Regions from separate parts of the Homo sapiens genome. Here region 1 is linked to region 2. The links come from fine-mapping of genetic effects on gene expression. Tissue or cell type: whole blood. Region 2 holds a variant in brackets; the other region holds the start of a gene. All regions are shown on one strand. Distances are from middle to middle.

Region 1 (8,089 bases), 31 kb after region 2:
CGCGGCTGCCCGGCTTGGGAGCCTGCGGCACAGGGCCCTGTGCAGCCCCTTGGGGAAGACGGCCCCAGGCTCTGCCAGCCCCCGCCACCCTCTCCAGACCATGCTCTGGGGGCCCTATGGCCACCAGCGCTCTGGACGCCCCACTCTGCCAGGTGAGAACGAGTTTAGGGGTGCGGGCTGGAGGTCAGTGTGTCTGTCCGAAGTCAGCTGGGAGGCAGGCGCCTACTTGAGGCGTCCTTGCTGGTGTGCGGTGGGCCTGGGGTTCAGACTGTCTGCCTGAAAGGTAAGGGTGAGGACGCCTGCATTCTCCTTGTTCAGTAACACGCGTGGGCAGCCAGGCCGAGGTGCTGGCTCTACTAGGGGATTCATCTGGTGCCGTCACTGATCGTGTGACCTCGAGCAAGCCACGAGTCACCTCGGAGCCTCCGGGTTCTTCTCTGGAAAACGGGCTTGCTGGGGGCTGATGACATCAGATGCGCGCTGCGCAGGCCCCCGCAGACACCGCCAAAAAGCGGGGACGGTAGCCTTCGTCTTCAACAGGACAGTGATCTCACAGGCCCACCACGGGCACACCTGGGGGCCAGGCCGGGGGTTCTGGAGGAGTCACAGCAGGAGGGCAGGTGAGACCTGGAGAGGGCGACCCCGGCGCCCGGGTTGGACTCCCGCCCGCTGCGACCGGAGAGGGGAGCCCGGCGGTCCTCCACGCCGTCCCAGATAGTCCCGGAAGTGGCCGCAGCTCCTGGAGGGGCGGGGAGGGGGCGGGGCCATGCGCACTCGCGGCAGCCCGCACGAGACTCCCGCAGCGGCAGCTGACGGGAGGCTTCCCGGAGAAGGAAGTGGGGTGCGGCGGGTCCTGGGCCAGGCAGGGCTGTTCCTCCGCGCCGGGTCCTAAACTCTCTGCAAGGTCTCTGTGTCCTCCCTCGTTGGGCAGGGCCCGCGAGATGCGCTGAAATGGCATTTACGTCTTTCCCAGTGTCCTCAGTGCCTTCTCCAAGCCCGCGGGCACGGGGCTGATTCTCGAACGTGCCATCTGATCCACTCAACATTTCTCGGGAACCCCAGAGCGGCCCGGCAGGACCCAGGCGTGGACTTTTAAGGGCATTTTTCTACCTTGTGGTGGCTGCCGGGTTTATCAGCGTGCAGTTGAACCGGACGTGATATTCCTGAGCCCTCCCGGGACGCCTGCGACCCTGAGCTGTGCTCGGCCTCTTGGTCACGCCTCTCCCCATCCTCCTTCGATTTGCGTCACACGAGGGCCGCTTGTCCGGGTGGCCGCCCCCGGGGCTGGCTCGGAGCCCCGTCCCACCCCTGCCGGCTCTGCCCCATCCCCCGCCACCAGAGGAACCTGGACGCAGACCACCTGGAGCATCTCCAGCTCAACGGCCAATCTCCAACCCACACCACCTCCAAGCCCACACCACCACCCCTCTCCCTCCTCCGACCCAGGACCCCGATTCTCAGCCTTCGCCCTCTCTCTCCTCCCCGAAGTGACCAGGGATCTTCCTAAAGATCCCATGGTATCTGGGAGCCAAGGTTTGGGATCTGCCAGCCCTGATTCCATAACCCACACTTATCCTTCCTCACGGAGCCTGTTTCTGCCTCTGACAATGGTGGTTAGCGCAGCCCGCTCCGCACCGCACATGGCGGCTGCAAGGACGGCATGGGTGGGGTTCTTTGCACAGTGCCAGGTACATAGCAAATCCCCACAAAAAGAGCTCCTGGAAGGGCTCTGTCAACAGCGTGAGTGGACAGTCTCAGCAGAGGACCACCTGAGGCTTGGGTTGGTCACAGCAAATGTGAGAGACCAGGAAAAGGGGTGCATGTGAGTTCTGGAACCCAGAAAGTGATCATCTGTATCTGGCACAGTATCTGCTTTTGAGCCCAGAAGGAAATAAAGGCCCTGGAGGGGCGCTGAACCCTAAAGCACTGGAGCTGCAGGGAGAGGTCTTCTGAGGCAGCTTCTGGCAGCCCCAGACAAGGGGAGGGCCAAGTGCTGACCTAACCATGGCCTTGGGGGCAGGTGTGCAGGCCTATGGATTAGCAAATAAGGACCGAAACATGCTTATGGATTAGCAATTAAGGACCAAAACATGCCTATGGATTAGCAATTAAGGACCAAAATGAGCTTAAGTTTGGACCCTTTTCAGTTCACAAGCGTTTTTATTTTTACATACATATATGTAGCATGGTGTATTGGCTAAGAAAATCGACCTTGGAATTTCAAGCCCAACTCTACAGTTAACTGTGAGGTTGGATGAGTTATTAATGTCTCTGAATCTATTTCCTGATTAGTAAATGATGTATTATGGTTCTCCAGAGAAACAGAACCAATGATGTGGGGTGGGGGAGGACAAGAGAAAGAGGGTTATTATCAGGAATGCACTCACAGGGTTATGGGGGCTGGGCAGTCCCAAGACCTGCAGCTGTCAAGCAGAAGAGCTGATTGAAAGCCAGTAGACTTGAGACCCACAAAGAGCTGATGTCTCCATTCAAGTCTGAAGGCAAGAAAAGACGTAGGTCCCGGTTCAGTCAGGCAGGAGGTGGTTCCTATGCGGGCCTTGAACTAATTGAATGAGGCCCACCCACATTATGAAGGGCACTCTGCTTCACTCAGTTCACAAATTCAAATGTTAATTTTATCCAAAAACACCCCCACAGACACACTCAGCACACACAGTGTCACTACTTACTCTCAGATTGCTCTCCAGACTGGGGGAACCAATTGACAAGGCCCCCAGCTCCCCCAGCTATGAGACTACATTCCCCATAACTTTTCAGCATGTTCACTTGATTCTCCAACCTTAACAGACTTGTGATATTACTTTAATGGCAAACAAGGCTCTGCTGTCCCACGCGCTTACTTTGCCACATGGCACAGTATCTGTGTCACAGACGCACTCTTCCCAAGGACAGGTCCAGGCCTGTGTCAGTCACTGCTTCATCCCAGCACCTAGCACAGGGCCTGACTCATGGTGAGCTGTGGACAAACGCACATGCAATTAACGACTTGTTCCTGCCTCAGGGTTCTCTTTTCCAGATGAGTAGAACAATTCACATTTTTTCACTCCTTACTTCAGACTGGGAGAAAGGGCCTGAGCAGAAGGATCAGAGTTCAAAGGAGGGGACACAGCGCCACAGAGGCAATGCCTGGAGCAACAAAGATTGGGGTTTGGGCATGTACTGGAGTGAGAGTGGAAAGGGCATGGAAGTCAGGGTCCAGTCAGAAGACAGAGGCCTCGTCAGTTATTTCAACAGAGAGGATTTCGCATCATGAATCACTATGTACGAAGTGACTACCGAAGGAGCTGAAAAGAGAACTCTATCTCAGAAGCAAAAACTGCAGGGAGCACCTGCTACGCTAGGGCTGTGGAAACAAAGGGAAGCGTTTGGAATTACTGGGGTCAGAAAGCCTGGGAACTAAACCCCTAAGGAGAGGGCTTCGCAGGTCTCTGGTCCCTGACCTGGCCCCGAGGGTGGGGACAGATCCCCGAGGCGAGGCGTCGATGGCTGCGGTCTGAGGTCTCTAGCGGGGGGCCGATGAAGCTCTTCTGCGAAGTTGGGAACCCGCGCACCAGTTTTAGCAGCCGCGGAAGGAAGTGCTCTTGCCGGGGCGAAGCAGCAGAGTTCGGAAGACACGCGACCAGGGCACCAAACAGACCGGAAGCCTGAGGAAAAAACCGGAAGCAAACCGGAAAGAGTGTGCCCCTCTCTCCTCCGCAGCCTCGCGCGCTTTCTCTGGCGCCCCTAGTGGGAAAGCCTAGCATGGCACCAGCTGGCCAAGCAGAAAAAGGTTTGCGGAGACCGGGCCAGCCGCAGAGGTGGAGCTGAGGGTCAAAACCTCCTCCCTGGAGCAGGAGGGCAGAGAGGCCTTCCTTGTACGTTCGAGCGGATTCATAAGATAAATGGTGAAGGACTCAGATGGCTGAGATGAGATTTTGTAGAAAAACCTCGCCGAGTGCCAAGTGCAGCTAGGGCTTCAGGAGTCCAGCCTGGTTTGTAAGCCTCGAGGAGCCCACGCGTGGCCGCAGGTGCAAATGGTCTCAGAGCAGCCATGCACGGGAGAATTCCTCCCAGGGAGAAACGCCGTGAATGTGACTTCTAGGGACACGCACAGCCGGTGGAAACCGTATGCATGTAGTGTGCATAGGTGAGATGTAATGGAACACTGGAGAAGCACCTTGTGAACGTGGGAAGGGTTTCGCGCATGCTCAGGCTCCGTTCGGGATCAGAACATTCCCGCAGGAGAGAAGCCAATGAGCAGCACTGGACGTGGCCACACCTTCGTGGAAGCGCTGGTCCTCAGGCATCAGAGTGGACATAGAGAGGCCCTGCAAATGTAATGACTGTGGGAACGCCCGCCTCCTGAGTTCATGCTGCCGTGAGGGAGCGGACTGTGGGTGCGGGCATGCGGAAAGGTCTCAGATAATCCCCACTGGAGAGGAACACTGTGGATGTCATCCACGCAGCAGAATCGGATAAATTGCACCAAGGGACCCCACCCCCACCCCCTGTGCAGTGACCACCGCAAAACCTTTAAGCAAAGATCTCATGCCCCGAAATGCCAGGGCCGTCACCAGGGATGCAGCAGGGAGTGAAACACCCATCTCTTTTCTCACACCAAACCGTAGCCAAGGGATTCACCACGAGGTGAGCCGGTGCGAGAGGGAGGACTCTGCAGGCGGAGACTGCCCTCGGGGTTGTGGCCTCAGAACGGGGTCCTGCTCCCTGGAGACATGGACCCTGTTTCTTACAGTAGCTTTTGTGCATCATGGGCAGGCAGTGCCAGTTGACACCAATCAAGTCTCAACACTCAGCCTGCACACGTGCAGATCCTCTGGAAAAACGCAGCCCCTCCCATCCTCAGATCCTAAGAGAGGTAGGGGCCTTGCCCATTAGCTGACTCCAAGACAACCTGGCTGGGACTAGAAGGTGAGAGCCAACCCCTGCGGCTGCTACAAGCCCCACAGGAGGCCCGGGGAGGGTTTCCTGGCAGTGTCTTCCGAGTCGCCGCAAGTTTCTGCCCAGTTTTCACAGCCTGCTCTTCCCTGGGTTCCGGCTGGGTCTCTTCCTCAGGTATGGCTCCACGCCTCCCCTGCCCAGTTGATGCAGGTCTCGCTCTGATCACATCCAGTTCCTGTAGACCATTGGCCACTCACCAGGCCGCTTTGCCTTGCGTTTTCTAGGGTCTTGTTTCATGGGGTCATGGGAACCCACTCAGGGACCACCCAACTACCTGAGAGGCCCACTGGAAAACGCAGATTCCCAGGCCCCACCCCAAGGGATTCAGCAGGCCTCAGGGGAAGCCAGGAAATCTGGATTTAGTTCAAATACCCAAATACATTGATCATGGGCCTGGTTCGGGAATCTGTTCTCCTCCAAGCCCTCAAAGCAGGAGCTGCTGGCCTGCCCTCTGCAAGGCCGCTGCCCAGGCTCTCCTCAGACACCACCTGGACGGGCAGCTCGAGCCGTGGGACGCCCCTGCTTGGGCCAGAATCGGGTCCTGCACCTCAGACCTGCAGGGCCCAGCTCGGCCTCTGGGCCTCTGGCAGCCGCGCCCTGCCTGGCACCCCCTGCCTCCGTGACGCCCCATCTCTCTCTCTACAACGTAGCCCCGTGCTAGTTCACAGCCTCGCGACCCCTCCCAGAGAGGCCCCACAGCCATGGCCCCCAGCCGCGCGAGCAACGCCAGGCACTCGCCCGGCCCTGGCCCGCCACCCTTGGGTTCGCCTGGGGTCCCCCGCCAGTCTTCCGAACGGGTCCTCCGAGCTGCCTAGAGCGCCCGGAAATGCCCTCGGCATGGGGCGGGGCTTGCGGGGGCGGGGCCGCGCTGCCGACTCGGGCTGGGCTTGGCTCACTGGGCCTAGGCAGTGCCTCAAGCGTGGGATACCCTGGTCAAGTCTTTAAAGATCACAGGTTTTAAACAGATTTCTTTTTACCCAATAGCATTTATTCATACTCTTTAAAGAAATTTGGGAAGTGTAGGAAAAATAGAAGAGACAGAAATTTTCTCCTCAGCACTACGGGCTAAGTATCCCAAATCCAAACACCCCCAATTCAAAACTTTTGAGCAGCTGACATGCCGCACAAAAGGAAATACTCACTGGAACACTTCAGATTTCGGATGTGGGAATTTGGGAGGCTCACCTGCTAACTATGGTACAAATATTCCCCAAAAAAAGCCAAAGCTTTTTTTTTTGAGACAGAGTCTCGCTCTGTCGCCCAGGCTGGAGTGCAGTGGCACGATCTTGACTCACTGCAAGCTCCGCCTCCCGGGTTCACGCCATTCTACTGCCTCAGCCTCCAGAGTAGCTGGGACTACAGGCGCCCGCCACCGCGCCCAGCTAATTTTTTTTTTTTTTTTTTAGTAGACACGGGTCTTCACCGTGTTAGCCAGGATGGTCTCGATCCCCTGACCTCGTGATCCGCCCGCCTCGGCCTCCCAAAGTGCTGGGATTACAGGCGTGAGCCACTGTTCCCGGCCGCCAAAACACTTCTGGTCCCAAGCATTTTGGATAAGGGATACTCAGGCTGTACAAGGAATGTCTGTGCACGTTTTTAGCAGCTCTTGCTGTTACACTAAATAGACTTCATGGTTAGCTTGTCCCTAAAATAACCTTCACGTCCTGAGGTCTGAGATCTGCTGGGAGCAGTGCTGGAAGCCCTATTCCCCCACAGCGAGAGGGGCGCCAGCATCCCTCATTTACGGGAGGAAATCGAGACTTGGTGAGGACGTCCCACAGCCCGGATTTGAACCCAGGCTTGGATCCGAGGCCCACGTGCTTGCTCCACAATGCCCCCTGCTGGCCACCCTCCCTGCCCTCAAAGATTGCTGTAACCAGAAGTGGACGAGCATTTCGGGGAGGAATGCTCCCCGCACAAGCCGAGGGGTCTCCCAGACTCCACTTTGGTGTCCCTGGAGTGCCCATGCCAGCGACCTTTTGGTGGGTCTTTTACCCCAGATGGAACTGTCGCCAAGTGTGTCCCCATCGTGGGGAGAGGAAGTGGATCAGCAGCGTCAGGCCTTGCGGAGGTGCACTCGCACCCTCCTGCGCTACGGTCTCAGAGGCAGGAGGACGCTTTCAGGGAGCCAGCCGCTGTGGCACCTGCAGCAGTTTCAGCAGTTGGGCAGCTCCAGCCGCCCTGCCACACCCTCACTCCTCATCCACTCCAAAATTCAACGCAGCATGCCGAGCCCCAGGTACGTTGAGGCGGAAAGCTATGGTCCCCGCCCGGAGGAGCCATGCAGTTCCCCGCAGCGTGGGTGGAGGAGGAGGGACAGGTGTCCCAGTCCTTGAGTCTCAGGTGGGCAAAATCATGCCACTACTGTGGCACTCGTGTGCCTGACTCCAGGCAGGGCCTTCCCGTCCTGCCGCCCTGCACTCTGTGCATGGCCATTCTGTGAGGCTGCTGCTCCTCAAGCAGCCCGTGGGATGGGAAATCCCCTCGTTTACACGGTAGACCATCCAGCCCAGCGCCTGCTGCAGAGCCTGGGTGAACAGCGTCTGGGTGACGAGAGTAACAGGCAGGATGCAAGTGGGAGCAGGCGGCTTCCCAGGACCTCGGTCCATGTGCCCATCCAGCAGGACCCTGAGCCCAGCTCCCATCTGGGGAGAGGGCTCCACGGGGGCAGGCAAGAGGGGCTGCATGCTGAGCTCCTGAAAGCTCTAGAATGCCCTCTGTAGCCATTACACTCGACGGAGGGCATGGCGAATAGCAAGGGCTTGGGGCATGTGGTTGGGTTTTAGGTTTTTCCTTGCAGGACTGTGCTGAGCCTGCACCACTGGGAAGCCCTTGGCCTCTGCCCTTTCTCTGAAACGCTCCTCTTCTGCCTGGATGCCTTGGTCATTCTTTCCTCATCCATAACCTTGAATAGCTTCACCAAGATCCGTGCTGGTGTCAATATTTTATATTAAGTTTTCCTGGGATATGGTGTTCTTGATTTTTTTGAATTAGGGTATAATTTACATAGCGAAAATGCCCAAATTTTAAGCACTCGGCTTGACTGTTTACATGTTTACACTCTTGCTAATCCCCCCAGGTCACAGCATGGAACTTTCCAGAGCTTCTCCTCCCTTTCCCTTCCCCTCCC
Region 2 (8,086 bases):
CCGGGCGCCGGCCCCGAGGCCGACCTAGCTCTGCACGTGGGCCGCGGGGCTCTGCCGTTGAAAGGAGAGCCTCTAACTAGGAGCACGCACGGGACCCTGGCGGGCCCCTCCGCCTGGCTCAGATGCCTGGCATCTCAGGCCTTGGCACAGCTAGCAGGCCCCTGGCAGGCCGTGGACCCAGCAGGCTGTTTTAGTGCAGATTGCCCCTGAATCTCAAGCCCACTAATGTTCCAGTCTCTCCATGAGACCCAGATCCCTGAAAGTAGTGGAGGGAGGCGCCAGGGTGAGTGAGGTTTTCTAGGCAGCCCTTACCGCCCACGGATACCCAGAGCTTCATATTACAAGTGAAGGGTCCTCCGCCCAGAGAGGCGACGGAGCTACGCTGGAGTTGCACGACAGAACCAGAACCCCAGTCTTTAGGGGTGTGGCAAGCGTGGGTTGCGCTGTTTGTAACTAGCTAATCACTCCTGTCTACAGGCCTGTGAGGTGAGGCCAAGAAAATCGCTATGGTCCAATCCGTTTTTGTTTTTTGCGTGTGGGGTTTTTTGTTTTGGTTTGGTTTGGTTTTTTTGTTTGAGACGGAGTCTTGTTCTGTCGCCAGGCAGGAGTGCACTGGCGCGACCTTTGCTCACTGCAACTTCTATCTCCTGGGTTCAGGCAATTCCCCTCCCTCAGCCTCCTGAGTAGCTAGGACTACAGGCACGTGCCACCACGCCCAGCTAATTTTTTGTGTTTTGGTAGGGACAGGGTTTCACCATGTTGGCCAGGATGGTCTCGATCTCCTGACCTCGTGATCCGCCCACCTCGGCCTCCCAAAGTGCTGGGATTACAGGCATGAGCCACCGCGCCCGGCCAGTCCACTCTGCTTTTAAGAAATATTTTATTTCTCAGGGTGGGCAGCGTGTAGAGAAGTGAGTCATTCCAGTCTCTGCCGGTTAGCACCTGCCAGCCTAAGTTGAGTCGACAGAGCCGTTATGGAGAATGTTCCCTGACCACAGTATGTGACTAGGATTTGGAGATAAAAAAGATACGATCCTCGCCTTCAGGAGACCCTGTCGCATAAGGAGACTGCCATGTCAGTGACCAGCCACACGTGCAGTGACAAGTGTCTGGAAGAAGGAACAGTGCTGTACAGCATGGAGGACCCCCACACAGGCCTCGGGCAGCAGCCGTTAGGCTCAGTGGGTTCACAAACCACCCCCCGCCCCGCCGTGGAGTGGAGTCTGCAGAGAGCCAGATAGGTTCCCGCCATGCCCTGGAGAGCTGCCGTTTCTCCAGCTCCGCCCTGCCCATGAGGCAAACAGCTGGTCGACTGGTCTTCTGTGCTGGTTCTTGGTTCTCACCTTTGTTTCCTACCAGAGCTGGACCCCGGCCTCAAACTCCAGCCAGCTTGGGCTGTGATCCTCTATCCTGGGCACCAGGGCCCACCCCCTGCCCACCCCAGCAGAGATGCTGCTTTATGCCTGCATCCTCCCTCAGCACACGTGGCCTTCATCTTCAGTTCTGGCGCCCACCTGATCTGCCTCCTCCCACACGCCACCTCTAGATAGAGCCCTAGAAAGTGATGTTGGCCTGAAACTGAGTCACATTCATCTAAACATTTTCCTGTAGAAAAGACCAGACCCTCCTTGTTGAGATAGGAAATCTGTAGTGAGTTTATGTGTTACCTGCACTCATGAGGGAGAGGAGGGAAGGCCACCAACCTCCTCTCAACAAAGAGAATTCAAAGTATTTATGTGTTGAGTTGTGTCACTTACGACATGCATATCAGCTCCACTTTCTACCTAGGGTCAACCCTGGCCTCAAACTCCAGCCTGGTTGACCAAGAACTAATACAAAGGGTACGGAATATTATTTCTTAGAATATGACTGGGCATGGTGGCTCCCACCTGTAGTCCCAGCTACTCAGGAAGCTGAGGTGGGAAGGATGTGACATGAGGGGTTCTGCTGGCTGCTGTGGTCCATGGCAGGGGGGCAGCCCTGGTTTCATGAACTCAGAACCCAGCCTCTGGGGGATGGAAGCACTCTCCACTGGGCACGTGTGGTCCCTGCAGCCTGTAGCTTCAAAGCACGGTGACTGGTTCCAAGCCCAGTATGGTGGAGAAGGAGACTACGGCAGGAACCAGGGGGATTCGGGGGTGGAGGAGGGAAGCCGCAGGGCAGTTGGTGGGTACATCAGATCCTGTGGACATGGTGTGCAGACCCGGAACCCCGGCAGAGGAGCAAGGATTCCTTGGTGAGCAACTGATCCCTTCATCGAGACAAGGAAAGGCCGGGAGAGAGTCAGGTGGGGCTCCGGGGAGATCAGCAATGCCGTTTGAGACACTCTTGGGGGAACACATGGGAAGGGAGGGGCCGCACCTGAATCCCACATCCCCTGAAAGGCAAACCTTTAATCTGAGGTTCATGTTCTTGCTTCTCCCCAGCACCAAGAGGATGGTGGCCCTTGGCCTCCTGGTGCAGAGCATCAGTCCCACGCTGGGAGTGTGGAGAGGTGCGTGGGAAGCAAGCCATTGAGGAAGTGGGGCCAACAGAGAGGTCAGCAGCCCCTTAGCCCTCACGCTTCCAAGGAACAGAATGATGGAGAAGCCTGCAGGCAGAAAAAAGAAGACGCCGACCCCAAGGGAGGAGGCAGACGTGCAGAAGAGTGCGCTCAGAGAGGAGAAGGTGTCCGGGGACAGAAAGCCACCTGAGAGGCCCACTGTGCCCAGGAAGCCCCGCACAGAGCCCTGCCTGAGTCCTGAAGACGAAGAGCACGTCTTTGATGCCTTCGACGCTTCATTTAAAGATGACTTTGAGGGGGTTCCCGTGTTCATTCCTTTTCAGAGGAAGAAACCCTATGAGTGCAGTGAGTGTGGGCGGATCTTTAAGCACAAGACAGACCACATTCGCCATCAGAGGGTCCACACTGGAGAGAAGCCCTTCAAGTGTGCGCAGTGCGGGAAGGCCTTCCGGCACAGCTCTGACGTCACCAAACACCAGAGGACTCACACGGGAGAGAAGCCCTTCAAATGCGGGGAGTGCGGGAAAGCCTTTAACTGCGGCTCCAATCTCCTGAAACATCAGAAGACGCACACCGGGGAGAAGCCCTACGAATGCACGCACTGTGGGAAAGCCTTTGCCTACAGCTCCTGTCTCATCCGCCATCAGAAACGCCACCCTCGGAAGAAGCCCTGAGCCGGGGCCATCTGCGGACTCGGGCCCTGCGGTGCGAGCCTCGCCGGACACCTGCTCCGTGGCTCCCTCGTGTCCCGCGTCTGATGGGGGCGCAGGGCCGTGCGCACTGTGTTCCGTGCCCTGGGGACCCCCGGAAAAGCAGCCCAGTCAGATGTGGGAACGTGCCAGCGAGGGAGAGACCTTTCCACTGCAGAGAGTCTCTCTGATCAAGACACCGCAGTGATGGAGAAGCCACCAGAGGCTCCTTGCAGCCACAGAGCATTTTCCAAGTTCCCGATGGCGAACGGGGCTCAGCACCAGAGACCAGGGAGTATTCACTGCCATCCATTGGACGTGTTTGGGTCACCTCAGAGCACCCAGCAGGAGAGGCTCCTGGTGTAGTGGGCAGCCCAGCACTTCCCGCTGCTGCCTGCCTGTGATGTCCACTCTGCTTAAGCCTTTCATCTGCCGCTGAAGGCCCCAGTCTGGACTCTCTGCCCTCTGGGTCCCCGAGCTCTGCAGCGAGCCCTGGGACCACTCATCCCTGCCCAGCCAGCTTCAGTGCCCGGGGCCGCTTGTCCCTGCCCGGCCTCTGTGCCCCAACTGTGCTTGGTCCTCTGGCTTCTCTCCTCCTGCTGGAGTGCCAGTCCCTGAGCTCAGACCCCCGTCCCCGGAACTGGGCCACACCACGTGCCCTCTTGGCCCAGCCTTCCTCCCAGAGAGGCGGCCTGACTTACCTGGATGGACTTGGGACAAAGGTTCCTCAGGACCTTGGACACCACCACCTGCTGAGCTTCCCGTCCCAGCCATGCAGTGGGGCCCCTGGGGTGCCCTCGGCAGCTTCGGTCCAGCCTGCATCTGCCCCTCGGCCTTCCGACGTGGGCGGTGGGCCCCAGCCCCACAGACCAGCCCAGCATTCAGGTTAGTTCTACTTCTTCATGCCTGTACCCA[G/C]TCCTGTCCCACCCAGTGGCAGGTCCACAGGCCTGTGCCACCCTTGTGTCCATCCAGGAGCAGTGTGGACGGGATCCTGTGCTCTCTAGGGACTGTGGTTTATAAGAGGGTAGCAAATGACTTTGTAAACCAGGAGGTAAGGTTTTTTATTGGGAAATGTTGGCGCCTATGTTTTCAGCTGTTTAGACGTGAAACACTAATCACGGCCCTAGTCTTTGGGGATTCTGTCCTGGAAGGAGGGTCCCGATTCGAGCTGGAGATGGCCTTGGCCTTGTCCATTGAGCAGTCTCAGAAATGGACTAGGGTACACTGCCCGGATGATGGAGAGCAGTCCTGTCTGGGTGGAAACGTTTACTGGGTTAACACATTTTTCCTGCCGCGGTCTTTCTGAGGGCTGTAATATTCCTGCCTGTCTGTGTAGGCCCCATACCAGCTTGGCCACTGTGGGGTCACTTGGAAAGGGAGCCTTTCGGCAGGCCTCCCCTCCCACTGGGAGGATGCTTCAGTCCCTCTGCACTCAGACGTGTTGGAAGCACATTCCACACGCAGAGTGTGTCTCTTCTCCCGGCTGCTCCTGCTGCTGGCCTGGACAGAGGAGCCTGTTCCATGGCAGGGGGTCCTGAGTGCTGCCACTTGTAGTATCGTGGGGAGGCTGCTCGGCTCCCAGCCTCTCTCATGCCCACTGCCCATGGGCTGCACTGACAGATGTGTCTCCTCACTTCCCCTTCCCCGCAGAAATAGAAATAGCCTAGAACTGGAAAATAAAACTCCCGTAAATCCCAGAACCACACTGTCACCCACACTAGCTTTGCCTCTGGCCTGGTTAACTTTCTATATAGCAGGTCCCAGAGCCCAGCCCGTCACCTGCTCACACTGGGTCCTGACCCGCAGGGCAGCATCTCCCAGATGGCTGTAGGGCTCTCTGAGGTCGGGTGACACTCAGTGCCTGGGCTGGCTGCGGACCCAGGCAGGCTGGTCCATGCGGAAGGCCCCACCCCGCCATGCCCCCATGGCATTGCTGGTGTGGCTGTGCTCGCCTGCGGGCCCTGCCTTTGTTTGGGTTGAGGCTGTGTTGGCCTTCATCAGACGTGTTGCCTGGGGGGGTTCTGCTCTCGGGACCACACACACTGGAGGGGCCTCCCCAGCGCAGGTGAGCAGGTGAACCACCAGAGGGGAGCCGTGGCGCCTGTGGCCTCCTGATGGTCCTGCCGCCTCAGTCGCTGCTGGAAGCACGGCCTTCGTGGCTTCTCAATGGCCCGTGGTCCCAATGGGGGTAGGTAGGTGGCAAGTCCCGTGGTGTCGTGTACCTGCCTCTGTGATGACTGTGTCTCACACTATTGGGCGTGTGCTGGGGAGGCCAGTCTTCCCGTGGGGCTCCCCGGGGCTGTGGTCAGCCCACTGCCGTCAGCATGGGGGTGAGGGGGTGAGGGAGCGAGGGGGCGGGCAGCCTCAGCCTCACCTAGATAGACTGTCCCTGGATGCCGCCGGCGGACCACGGCCAGTGTTGACCCCCACAGGGCAGGACATCCTGGTGGGCCCCCTGGCCCGGATCTCCTTATGCAGCCGTTCCCGGTATGTCCTGAGGCTGGACGGCCTCAGCCAGCTGTCACCAGGAGAGGAATACTCGCACTCCCAGAAATGGACATATCAGGAGGTGAATTGTTCAGAAGCAGGCATCAGAGCACGTGTGACGTGTGATCCTGGATCGGAAGAGTTGCTTTGAAGGACTTTGCTGGGACGTTTGGCCGACCTGGATTGTAGACTCCAGGCACAGTCAACTGCAGGCACAGTCAACTGCAGGCACAGTCAGCACCAGCGCAGCAGGGACGGGGCGGTCCTCACTGACGTCCTCCTACTGCAGATGCACACTGAGGCTCTTGGCCGCAGAGCGTGGCGTCTGCAGTTCATGCCAACGGTGTGTGCACGTCCCCGGAGAGTGACAGAGGAGAGTGGCTAAATGTCAGTCATGGGGAATCTAGAGCACAGGTGGGCACGCTTCTCCGATGAAGGGTCAGGCAGGAAATATTCTTGGCACTGCAGCCATACAGCCTGTGCCTCAGCACCCACGGGGGACCACAGAAGGTTGGGGACCACTGCTTTAAACAACTAGCTCTCCCGTGAAGAGCAGGTCCCCACCCTGCTGTGTAGGGCAACAGCAGATGTCAATGGCATATGAATGAACGAGCGTGGCTGTGCCAATAAAACTTTATTTACAAACGTAGGAGGTGGGCCGGATTTGCTTGCCGATCCTGTCCTAGGTGAAGGGTGCATTCGAGCTCCTGGTATAGTTTGGACGTCTGTCCCCTCCAGATCTTATGTGGAAATGTGATCCCCAGTGTGGGAAGGGGCCTGGCAGGAGGTATTCGGGTCACGGGGACAGATCCCTCGAGAATGGCTTGGTGCCCTCCTCACAGTAATGAGTGAGCTCTCACTCTTGAGGTTCACTGGAGAGCTTGTTGTTTAAAGCAGTGGTCCCCAACCTTCTTGGCACCTGGGACCAGTTTTTTCCGTGGACAGGGAGTGGTGTGGATGGTTTGAGTATGAAACTGTCCCACCTCAGATCATCAGGCATTTGATTCTCATAAGGAGCGTGCAACCTAGATCCCTCGCATGCAGTTCACGGTGGGGTTCGTGGTCCAGTGAGAATCTAATGCCACCGCTGATCTGACAGGAGGCGGAGCTTAGGCGGTAACGCTCACTCGCCTGCCACCCACCTCCTGCTGTGTGACCCACTTCTAACAGGCCATGGACCCGTCTTGAGGTCAGGGACTCCTGCATTAAAGAGCCTGGTGCCTCCTCCCGTCTCTTGCTCCCTCCCTGCAGCCTCACCAGAAGCCAAGCAGATACCTGTGCAGCCTGCAGAACCGCCAGCCACGTAAACCTCGTTACAAAAACTTACCCAGCCTCGGGTGTTCCTTTATAGTAACACACAATGAACTAACACAACTCCCAGTCCTTGCACACGCTCTCTGTGTCTTAGTGTCCTTCAGAATTAGCTGTTGGCAGGGAAGAGCCGGCGTCAGGAGTCAGGAACTCGGACACAAGAAAGAAACCAGGGGGCGGGACAGGGAGCTGCTCAGAGCAGGCATCCTCTGCTGTCTGTCGGGATGTGCCACAGAGGGTGGCAAGTGTGGACACGGCTGTCTAGGATGGCCCAGGAGACGGGCACGCATTCCCTGGTGGTGTCTGCATTTGGTTTGATTTTACTTATGATAGTATGATCGTTGCTTTTCCCCGTTACTGACAATAGGGAGCGTTACTTTTTTTTTTTTTTTTTTTTTGAGACAGAGTCTCATTCTGTTGCCAGGCTGGAGTGCAGTGGCACGATCTCAGCTCACCACAACCTCCACCTCCCGCGGTCAAGCGATTCCCCTGCTTCAGCATCCCGAGTAGCTGGGATTTCAGGCACGCACCACCACGCCCAGCTAATTTTTGTATTTTTAGTAGAGACGGGGTTTCACCATGTTGGCCAGGAAGGAAGCATTACTTTTAATGCCTGCACAATGACCAGTTGAATCGAAAAGGCACAGGTGACTTATCCACTTCCCAGCATGGGCATGTGGGCTGTTTCCAACCTAGGTTATTATAAATAATGCCACAATAAATATCTTTTCCATATTTAGGGCCAATAGGACGGATTCCCAGGTGTGGATTGACATCTCACCAAATGCCAGCCCCAGGTCATGCCCACAGAGACGCCTGCAGCAGCGCATGGCTGGCAGGACCACCTCAGCCTCTCTAGCAGCAGGCAGGTGGGTTCCTGATCCTAAACTCACACTTTAATCTGATGTCTTTGATTTCTAGGACGCACGTAGTGGGTCAAGAGCATAGCTCTCAAGTCAGGGGCTGTGGACTTGACCCTCACTCTGGAACTGTGGGGCCTTTGCCTCAGTTTTCCCAGGTGTGAAATGGCGATGCTGACAGTGCTTAACCCCACAGGGTTGCCAAGAACAAGAACCGTAATACGTGACGTCGTAAG

Evidence for each region. PIP is the estimated chance that this variant, and not a neighbour inherited with it, causes the effect.
Region 1: MINCR starts here. The variant in region 2 is fine-mapped to the expression of MINCR in whole blood (TOPMed, PIP above 0.99).

The regions. Positions count from the first base shown.
Region 1 is chr8:143,278,021-143,286,109 of GRCh38, forward strand. It overlaps MINCR (MYC-induced long non-coding RNA), which reads right to left and starts at 3,680. Exons shown (of 3, transcript NR_120682.1): 1 at 3,462-3,680; 2 at 2,862-2,977; 3 at 2,135-2,495. RefSeq lists enhancers at 1,521-2,163, 3,460-3,609.
Region 2 is chr8:143,247,264-143,255,349 of GRCh38, forward strand. ZFP41 (ZFP41 zinc finger protein) reads left to right here. Exons shown (of 3, transcript NM_173832.6): 2 at 2,427-4,077. The coding sequence starts at 2,581. The coding sequence ends at 3,177. Among named protein-coding and RNA genes, the nearest start is that of ZFP41, 4.4 kb to the left of the region's middle. RefSeq lists silencers at 1-20, 61-110 and an enhancer at 3,421-3,921. The variant G/C (reference allele first, on the strand shown) is at 4,108.